2 separate regions of the Homo sapiens genome follow, and region 1 is linked to region 2. Evidence: fine-mapped expression QTL. A gene starts in region 2. The other region holds a variant in brackets. All regions are shown on one strand. Distances are between the middles of the regions. Region 1 overlaps ZC2HC1A (zinc finger C2HC-type containing 1A). Region 2 holds the start of ZC2HC1A (zinc finger C2HC-type containing 1A).

The links.
Region 1: its variant is fine-mapped to the expression of ZC2HC1A in Th2 cells (Schmiedel 2018, PIP 0.93).

What each region holds. Positions count from the first base shown.
Region 1 is chr8:78,693,671-78,697,945 of GRCh38, forward strand. ZC2HC1A (zinc finger C2HC-type containing 1A) reads left to right here. Exons shown (of 9, transcript NM_016010.3): 6 at 3,737-3,836. It also overlaps a transcript of IL7 not described here. Among named protein-coding and RNA genes, the nearest start is that of ZC2HC1A, 30 kb to the left of the region's middle. The variant A/C (reference allele first, on the strand shown) is at 1,988.
Region 2 is chr8:78,663,745-78,668,019 of GRCh38, forward strand. ZC2HC1A (zinc finger C2HC-type containing 1A) reads left to right here and starts at 2,345. Exons shown (of 9, transcript NM_016010.3): 1 at 2,345-2,420. The coding sequence starts at 2,405. It overlaps LOC105375911 (a long non-coding RNA gene), which reads right to left and starts at 2,235. Exons shown (of 4, transcript XR_007060972.1): 1 at 1,261-2,235. RefSeq lists enhancers at 1,468-1,976, 1,977-2,484, 2,449-2,498 and a silencer at 2,159-2,378.

The sequences.
Region 1 (4,275 bases), 30 kb after region 2:
ATTCTGTAGGTTGCCTGTTCGCTCTGATGGTAGTTTCTTCTGCTGTGCAGAAGCTCTTTAGTTGAATTAGATCCCATTTGTCAATTTTGGCTTTTGTTGCCATTGCTTTTGGTGTTTTAGACATGAAGTCCTTGCCCATGCCTGTGTCCTGAATGGTATTGCCTAGGTTTTCTTCTAGGGTTTTTATAGTTTTAGGTCTAACACTTAAGTCTTTAATCCATCTTGAATTAATTTTTGTGTAAGGTATAAGGAAGGGATCCAGTTTCAGCTTTCTACATATGGCTAGCCAGTTTTCCCAGCACCATTTATTAAATAGGGAATCCTTTCCACATTTCTTGTTTTTGTCAGGTTTGTCAAAGATCAGATAGTTGTAGATGTGTGACATTATTTCTGAGTGCTCAGTTCTGTTCCATTGGTCTATATCTCTGTTTTGTGTTTTTAATTTCTTGCAGTTGGCTGGCTATTTTTCTAATTTCCTATTTTTTATAGTTTGCAATTTTCCATTAATATTTTCATAGTTGTCTGCTATTTCTTTAAATGTAGTACTCATAGTTGTTTGTAATGTGTGTCTGATAATTATAGCAATATCAAGTGACTTGTATGGATATGTTCCTTGTTTTTTTTTTTTTCTCATTCAGTTTCCTTATATCCTTATTTCCCTGATTATTATTGACCTTTGCTGCTTGTTACAAGTAAAACGGTATTCATGATTATCATTCATGCCTTCTTCCAGAGAAGATGTGTGCTGTGCTTATTCCTTTTAGGTATCTATGAGTCTTATCAGTCTGGAAACATTTGAAATTAAATTATTGGCTTAGTTTGCTTGACCAGCCTAATAATGCAAATTTATACAGCAAATCCATGTGATGTTCAGGTCGTTATTACAATTCCATATGGTTTGGCCTGGAAATTTCTTTTCCTCTCATTTGACATTCAGTGCTTTTACAATGATTTTTTATTCTTTCCTGAGCATTTTTAGTTGTTAATTGAAAGGTTGGTCTAAATAGTAAGTTCTACCATTTTGTCAGAAATGGATGTCCTACAAGTTCTTTAGACTTTTTCCAATTTCATTAGTCATTAGTCTTTGTATAAATATTTTTGTAAGGAAATGTATGAGATTTGTGAGCAGCATAAAAACACAAAATAATAATTACCAAATAATAATGAATGAAAGAAATACGTTGAATGTAATTGTATAAAATCATTTCATTCTCCTGGTCATTAAAATGGATTTATACAAAATTGTTGGTTGATAGAGTCATTCTGAAAGTCTTCATAATAGCACACAAAACCGTTGATTGATAGAGTCATTCTGAAAGTCTTTATATACCAGTAGACTTTCAGCTTGATGTTGTAGAATAGATAGAATATAGCTCAGAAAGGAAGGAGTCAGATTATCTAGGTCAGGGAAAACAGCAAGATACCGAGGGGGAGGTGAATAATGTTTTAAACAAGCAGTTTTCGGAAAGGAAACTAACCTGACTAGTTCTTGTCTAAAGTAATGGGAAATATTATAGGATATAAGTAAGGTTGTTCTAGGTTCTGAATAGCTCAGAAAACTCAACAATAAAATTTAGTAAAATAGTGGGAAGTCTTATATAGAGAGGGAGAAAGCAAAACATTTTTTGGAGACATGTTCTGCCTAAGTATTTGGAAGCCATTAAGTTGTTAATAATTCCTATTATATACATAAAAATCTTTAGTCTCCATTATGTAATGCTACCAGGAACCTTTCTGCCTGTTTCCTGCCTAAAGACTTGACCTCTCAATATGTAATAGGCCACATCAGCGCACTTTGTTTATGCTAATCATTTTGCTCTTTTTTGATTGTACAGTTTGAGTGGGTCAGCAGTCTTGTTTCCTAATCTGATTTTATTAACTCTGTTTTTATAGACATAACTCTCGTAGTTTAACAAATTTTTGTTAGAGCTTGTTTTCCCTATTGCTATAATTTTAAGTCTTTTCTAATGTCTGTCTTTCTCTCTCT[A/C]TATATATATAGTGGCCCAGATGCCCTTTTAAACCAGAAGCACCTCTAAGGTTTTAAAAAATCAGTATCATTATATGGTTCATCTCCCAAAGTCTCATAGACATTTGTTAATTTGAAAGACATTTACTGAAGGTTTTGGTTTTCTATTTTTCAGGTGCTGGCATAATACTGCAAAACGTGAATGCTACTTTTTTTGTGTGACCGTTTATCAAGATTTAACTTTTTAAAAATTCACATACAGAGTTAGAAGGATATAATGTTTGACTTCAAAATTGGTTTTAGCTAGCTATTTTTGGTAGTAGTGCATCTTAAATTTTATATTGATTATTGGTTATAAAATATGATTTGATTTTTGAAAATGATAATTTAAAACCAATTTTTCTTTCTTTTTTTTTTGAGACGGAGTCTTGCTCTGTTGCCAGGCTAGAGTGCAGTGGCGTGATCTCGGCTCACTGCAAGCTCCGCCTCCTGGGTTCACGCCATTCTCCTGCCTCAGCCTCCTGAGTAGCTGGGACTACAGGCGCCCGCTACCACGCCCGGCTAATTTTTTGTATTTTTAGTAGAGACGGGGTTTCACTGTGTTAGCCAGGATGGTCTCGATCTCCTGACCTTGTGATCCACCTGCCTCGGCCTTCCAAAGTGCTGGGATTACAGGCATGAGCCACCGTGCCCAGCCCGTTAAAACCAATTTTTCACATGAAATCTTGATACCGTATTGGGCTACATTCCAAGCACATATGCAAGTATGATTTTCACCTTATGGTTGAAGCATTGGGCTAGAACCAGCATGAGTCTAAATTCCTGCTCTGCTGTGAAGTTGGGGCATAACCCTGGGCAAGTTCATTTCTTGCTATTGAAGCAGGTGATCAGTAAGATACTTTTATTGTCAGGTAACTGAGCAAAATTTGGCTCAAAAAGAGAAAGTAAAATAAAATTAATAAAGATGTCTCTTTAGAGGAGTAGAGAAATATAAAAATCCAAGATAAGCTGAAAGATCTTAGGTCAATGCATACTCCATTAATTTAAGATGGTCTGGTGAGGATCGTGAAGCCAGAATTAGCTCTTTCTCTTCATATCAGGGAAATCCATAATGCAGCTGTTGTAAAACTTGTTCAGGTCCTAGGTCATCTTACGGTTTTTATCAGTAGGAAATATGGCTGAATTATATATATGGAATATAAAAACACATCCAGGAACATATAAAAATCTTGACCTTTAAAGCTGCACCATAGCTGTTTCTAAGTTTTTCTACTAATGTTTGTTTGGTGTTTAAAATCTTAACTTTGAGGAAGTTTTTTCCGTTAGACCTTTTTTTCTTTTTCCTGTGAACTGAAAAAGTTGCTGTTAGTTTGTTTTAGCAGTGGAGCATCTGAGAGGGAGTCTAGTTTGGAAAACCTTTGAGGTGATATATTTTAATCTATACTTCCTCAATTTGTATAATTCAGTAGAAAAGACTGTTCATTTAAGGGAATGTGAGCTGTTTCTTTCCAATTATTTTTTTACTGTGGTATAATACATGTAGCATAAACTTTACCATCTTAATCGTTTTTAAGAATACAATTCAGTGTATACTTACAAGTGTTTTAATACATTAATGATGTGCAACCATCATCACCATTCATTTCCACAACTCTTTTCATCTTGTAAGGCTGAAATCCTAAACCCAAAGAATGTTAAGTTTTGAACCACTACTTTACAATCCATAATCAAAAAGTGATGTTGATTAATATTTTTTTTCCATTATTTTAGTATAAGCCACCCGCACTTAAAAAGTCAAATTCTCCTGGAACTGCATCATCAGGATCTTCACGATTACCGCAGCCAAGTGGCGCTGGCAAAACTGTTGTAGGTAATGATAGCCGAAAAGCAACTTGATTTGTTTTTGAAACCATGTTGGCAGAGCAGGAAATAAAGATAGTGGTCTATTCTGGAATATTAAGATAGATTTATAATTAAGAAGAGATGTAGAAGTTAAGTAATTATTTTTTAAAATAAGATAACTTTGAGTAGTTTCTACTTTTAACCTTTTTTTTTTTTTTTTGACGGAGTCTTGCTCTGTTGCCCAGGTTTGAGTGCAGTGGTGGAATCTCAGCTCACTGCAACCTTCGCCTCCCAGGTTCAAATGATTCTCCTGCCTTAGCCTCCCGAGTAGCTGGGACTATAGGCGGGTGCCACCATGCCCACCTAATTTTTTGTATTTTTAATAGAGATGGGGTTTCACCAAGTTAGCCAGGATAATCTCTATCTCCTGAACTCGTGATCCCCCAACCTGAGCCTCCTAAAGTGCT
Region 2 (4,275 bases):
TTATTTTCAGTTAACAAGATCACATGGCAGGTAGAAAAATTATGTACAGGTAAGTGCTTAAAAACATGAGAAGAAGCTGAGTTTCATTCATTTGAGTAACTGGCTAGTGATAAAATGGACTTGAAGCATAGAAGGTACTCAACAAACATTTGTTGAATGAATGCATGCCGAAAAATGGATTAGACTGGAGAGGAAGTAATGTCATGATACAGTGCCAAGACAAGACTCTCAGGCTAGGTATGTAGGCGGCAGAGGAAAGAACTTATTGAAGGCAGATAGGAAGAAGTCCTCTTTACTCAGGGGTCAGAATCAGGGAAAAGCTGCAGGAGCCAGGGTAGCTGTAGCGTAAAAGTTATGAAGAGACCAAAAGCATAAAAGTTATGAAGATACCTGTAGGGAAGACTAGCAATCATGTTTTAGAGAATTAAGATTCACAATAGAAATGCCTACTCAAATATATGTTAAACAACATGTCTGAACGCTTGGGTTTACACTTGAGGCAGCTATAATAAAAGGCAAGGCAAGGAAAGGGAGTGAGGAGCCCAATCAAATCACCATAGGCTTTAGAATTTAACAGACAAGAGTGTAGCCAAGCTCTACCATCCACTAATAATACAAATATTGACAAAATATTAATTGCTCTGAGACATCTAGAAAATGAACATTTTAATTCTGATAAATGAAGATTGTAGTATCTACTTTGTAGATTTCTTTTGAAGATTTGTGAATATATGAAAATGGCCTAAAACATGCCTCACATGATTTATTCTTTAATGCTATTTTTATTATTTTTAATGTTACTGTAGATTTTATGTCGAATAAGGTATCAGCCAACTCAATATTCGTCTTGCCTTCAGTGAAAGAACTTGTAATTTGTAAAATAATGGCTTCCTTATTTTTGTATTTTCTTCTGTGTGCTTTTTTTTCTCCTTAATGCTCTTTTAAAAGGCCTTCCCTCCCAACCAAAAATTCTACCTTTGCCTTAGTAGCACTAAGGAAGAAAAAGGACCTTTCCGCAGCACCCAGTCTAGAGTAGCTTATTGCCTGCAAGGCTATGGGTTGGCCAAGGAGGCCCAGGATCTCAGAGAAGCAGAAGAGCCAGGGGAACCAGGGAAGGGCGGAGGGAGTCATTGAGGCATGGTTGAAGTGGTCTTTACATGGCTCCACACAACAGATGGACTCTACCACATTCAAATGCACTTGGAGCACCTTCTCAGTAAGAGATGATGCCCCCTCAAGTGTTTGCTTGTTTAAACATACCTTCATGTGAGTGGAGAGTAGGAGGAATCCTGCTTCCTGAAGGTAACTGATTTCATAGTAGATGAAGTTAGATATGAAGTTAAACTCTTCAATTAAACAGATTAACAATAACATTAATCCGAGGTTTGTTATGGACAACACATTAATACTGGTAACTTGCCAGTAGATACGCTATAGTCAGCAAACAGTACAGCTTGTTTACGATTGCTAAATCAAATTTTCAAAGAAATGTAGTTCTGGTAATTGTAAGCAAAACCGTTAAAATGGTCTGAGTTAGTTTTGAAGTTACTTTCATCTTCAGGAGGTTTTGAACTCTGTTAGAGACGGGCGGGCCTCATTCTGTCAGGTTGTAGGTTAATTCCCCAACTCAAACTTCCCCGATCAAACATTGTCAGGCCAGGCGACTGTTTTGGTTTATGGATGATAAAGTATAGGGCCAAGGTAGGCCAAGAGTAGAAGACAGAGGGAGGGCTGGGTTTCACTTCTAATTTTTGGCCCAAGCTTTCATGGTGAGGAAACTGTTTTCAAGGGCTTAGAGCAATCGCAGTTCCACAATCGCAGATAGAAAGTATGATTTCTCTGGAAAAAAAGTGTCTTAACCTATGAAGCTGTGTGTGAAGATCAAGTGTAGGGGATACGCTGAGGTCAAGTCATGCGACCAAAGACCGGAAAACGGAGATTGCTGCATGCAAGCGTGCTGGGCGTTTGTTTGGTTTGCTTGCCTGCTTAAAGTATCCACTGGGAGGGATGGCGGCTAGAAGTCAGAGGCATTGACTGATTGAGGAACTGGTGAAGCGGAGCCCATGAGGTGCTGAGGTACTCTAAATAGGAGGATAAGGTATGAGGCAAAACAAGGCTGGAGTCAAACAAAGGCGCCGTTGCATCGCAGATTGCAACCTGAAGCGGCTCCCGGCTCCCTGGAGAGTAACCCGGAGAGACGGACAGGGGTGGCAGCCAGGAGGAGACCGCAGGAACCTCGCCTCCGCCGCGGCCCCGCCCCCACGGATCCCCGCCCCCGCAGTTGCGGAACCAATGGGAGCTCGGAATGTTAGCGGGTGGGAGGTGCGGCTGGGTTGCTACAGCCAGAGCTGGGCGGTGGCGGGCGCTGCTGAAGGAGTCTCGCTGAGCTCGAGGAGGTGGCGCGATGGAGGGACTGGAAGGTGAGGCGATGAAGGGATGAGGGCAGGACGGCTAGAGCGGGCCCGAAACAGCTGGGGACCCTGGACACCAGTAGCAGGAAGGCGAGGGCTGGTTCGGTGCGGCGGACCTCGCCGCGTCCCGCCGCGCCTCCGGAGGCTGGGGCCGAAGGGAACCGGACAGTCCCCGATGCGGTGGAGCTAACGCTACCAGGCTGCCCCGCCTCAGACGGTCTTCAACTGGGCTTTCCCGCCCGGAGCCAGATCCTGCCCCTGGCAAGACGCCTGCACGTCTCTTCCTACCATTTTCTGATCTTGCTTGACTCCTGAGTGCCCTTTTAGTGATCCCAGTCTCTGGCCAGATTTTGTTTTCCTTGTACTGGACTCTCTCCATTATTGTCCACGGCCTTAACACCAACAGGCCACTTTGTGCTGCAGCCCCGGGGTGTGTCTCCAGCCTCGAGCTCCTGACATTCCTTGGCCGATTTCCCTAGGTAACCGGCTTTTTACATTTCGACAGCATCTTCTGTCGGAGGGATGTCAGAGCATCTCCTAAGGAAGTGTCACTGGCCAGCTTTAGAGCCGGTACAATAGATTACCCGGAGGATTTGATGACTTATTCACGGCCGCTGTGTGAGGAAGAGCCTGTATTGGTTCCTTATCTTTGGGTTTATCTTTGTACTGTAACCATGACTCCAGATTTTGCTTTGTTCCCAGTTCTTTCACTTTTTCTCTATTCTGTTTACCCATTTTATCCTGTGTAATGAAAGCATTCACCTAAAAACAAAGGAAGGACAAAAACCACAATAACTAGCATTGGCAACAACAGTTTCAAGATTTTTTAATTTGTTATGATGAAGAACAAACCTTCAGAATTGAAAGATCCTATTGTCTTGATTTAGCTCCTTTCCCCCGTCTCCTAGTTTACACGGATTCAGTTGGAATTAAGAATGAGCAGAAGCTTTTGAGTCTTGTGTATTGTTGCATGCCAGGGAGTAAAATATTCTACATTGTGTGATGAAGTGCAAAGTGGTAGCCGGTAACTTTTTCAGTCACCTATTCACCAAAAAGCAGATGTAATAACATGAGTAGAAGTTTATTTCGTGCTTTTGCTCTGATAAATGATTCTGATAATTTTCCGTTTGTGGACAGCTGCAGTATGCTATGGCCTAATGAAGGTCTTGTTTTTTGCTTATGTGTTTTTGGAAGATAATTCAAGTTTCCATGAAATAAGGAATTGTAATGATAGTACAGTATATTTTACTTTCAAGATACTTTTGTATCTTGGTGGGATTAAAGCATGGGTTATGGAATTCTCATGAGATTATCATATATAATATGATAAGGTTTTATTACATATTATCTATAAAGTGTTTTGAACAGTTTGCAGATTTTTATTATTTTATTCAACATTTGTTATTAAGACAAAGATCATCATCTGATTTTTCACTTATGTATCCTAGGCACCTAAAACAATGTCTGACACAAAGTAGGTACTCAATAAATATTTGTTGTTAAATAAATGTCTATTATGGGCATCTTTTTAGGTTCTAGGTTGCAGCAAAGAATAAAAATGATAAAGCTTTACTCTCATCGAACCTACATTTTAGTGGACCTTACATTTTAACAGTGCTAAGATATTACTATTGAAACCTTACTACGAATGTTTTTAAAATATAATGGAAACCTATTATGACACTCAGTTGCATAGGTGGACAAAGGTAGGATTCTGTATTTATAGGCATATTTTATGGGTCCAGCTTATGATGTTATAGGGCCCAGCTTATGATGTTAATAGTGCTTGCCCTTTACTTTTAGATTTTTTTTTTTTACAAAATAAGATGCTATCATTAACTATAATGTGTTTAATTGTGATAAA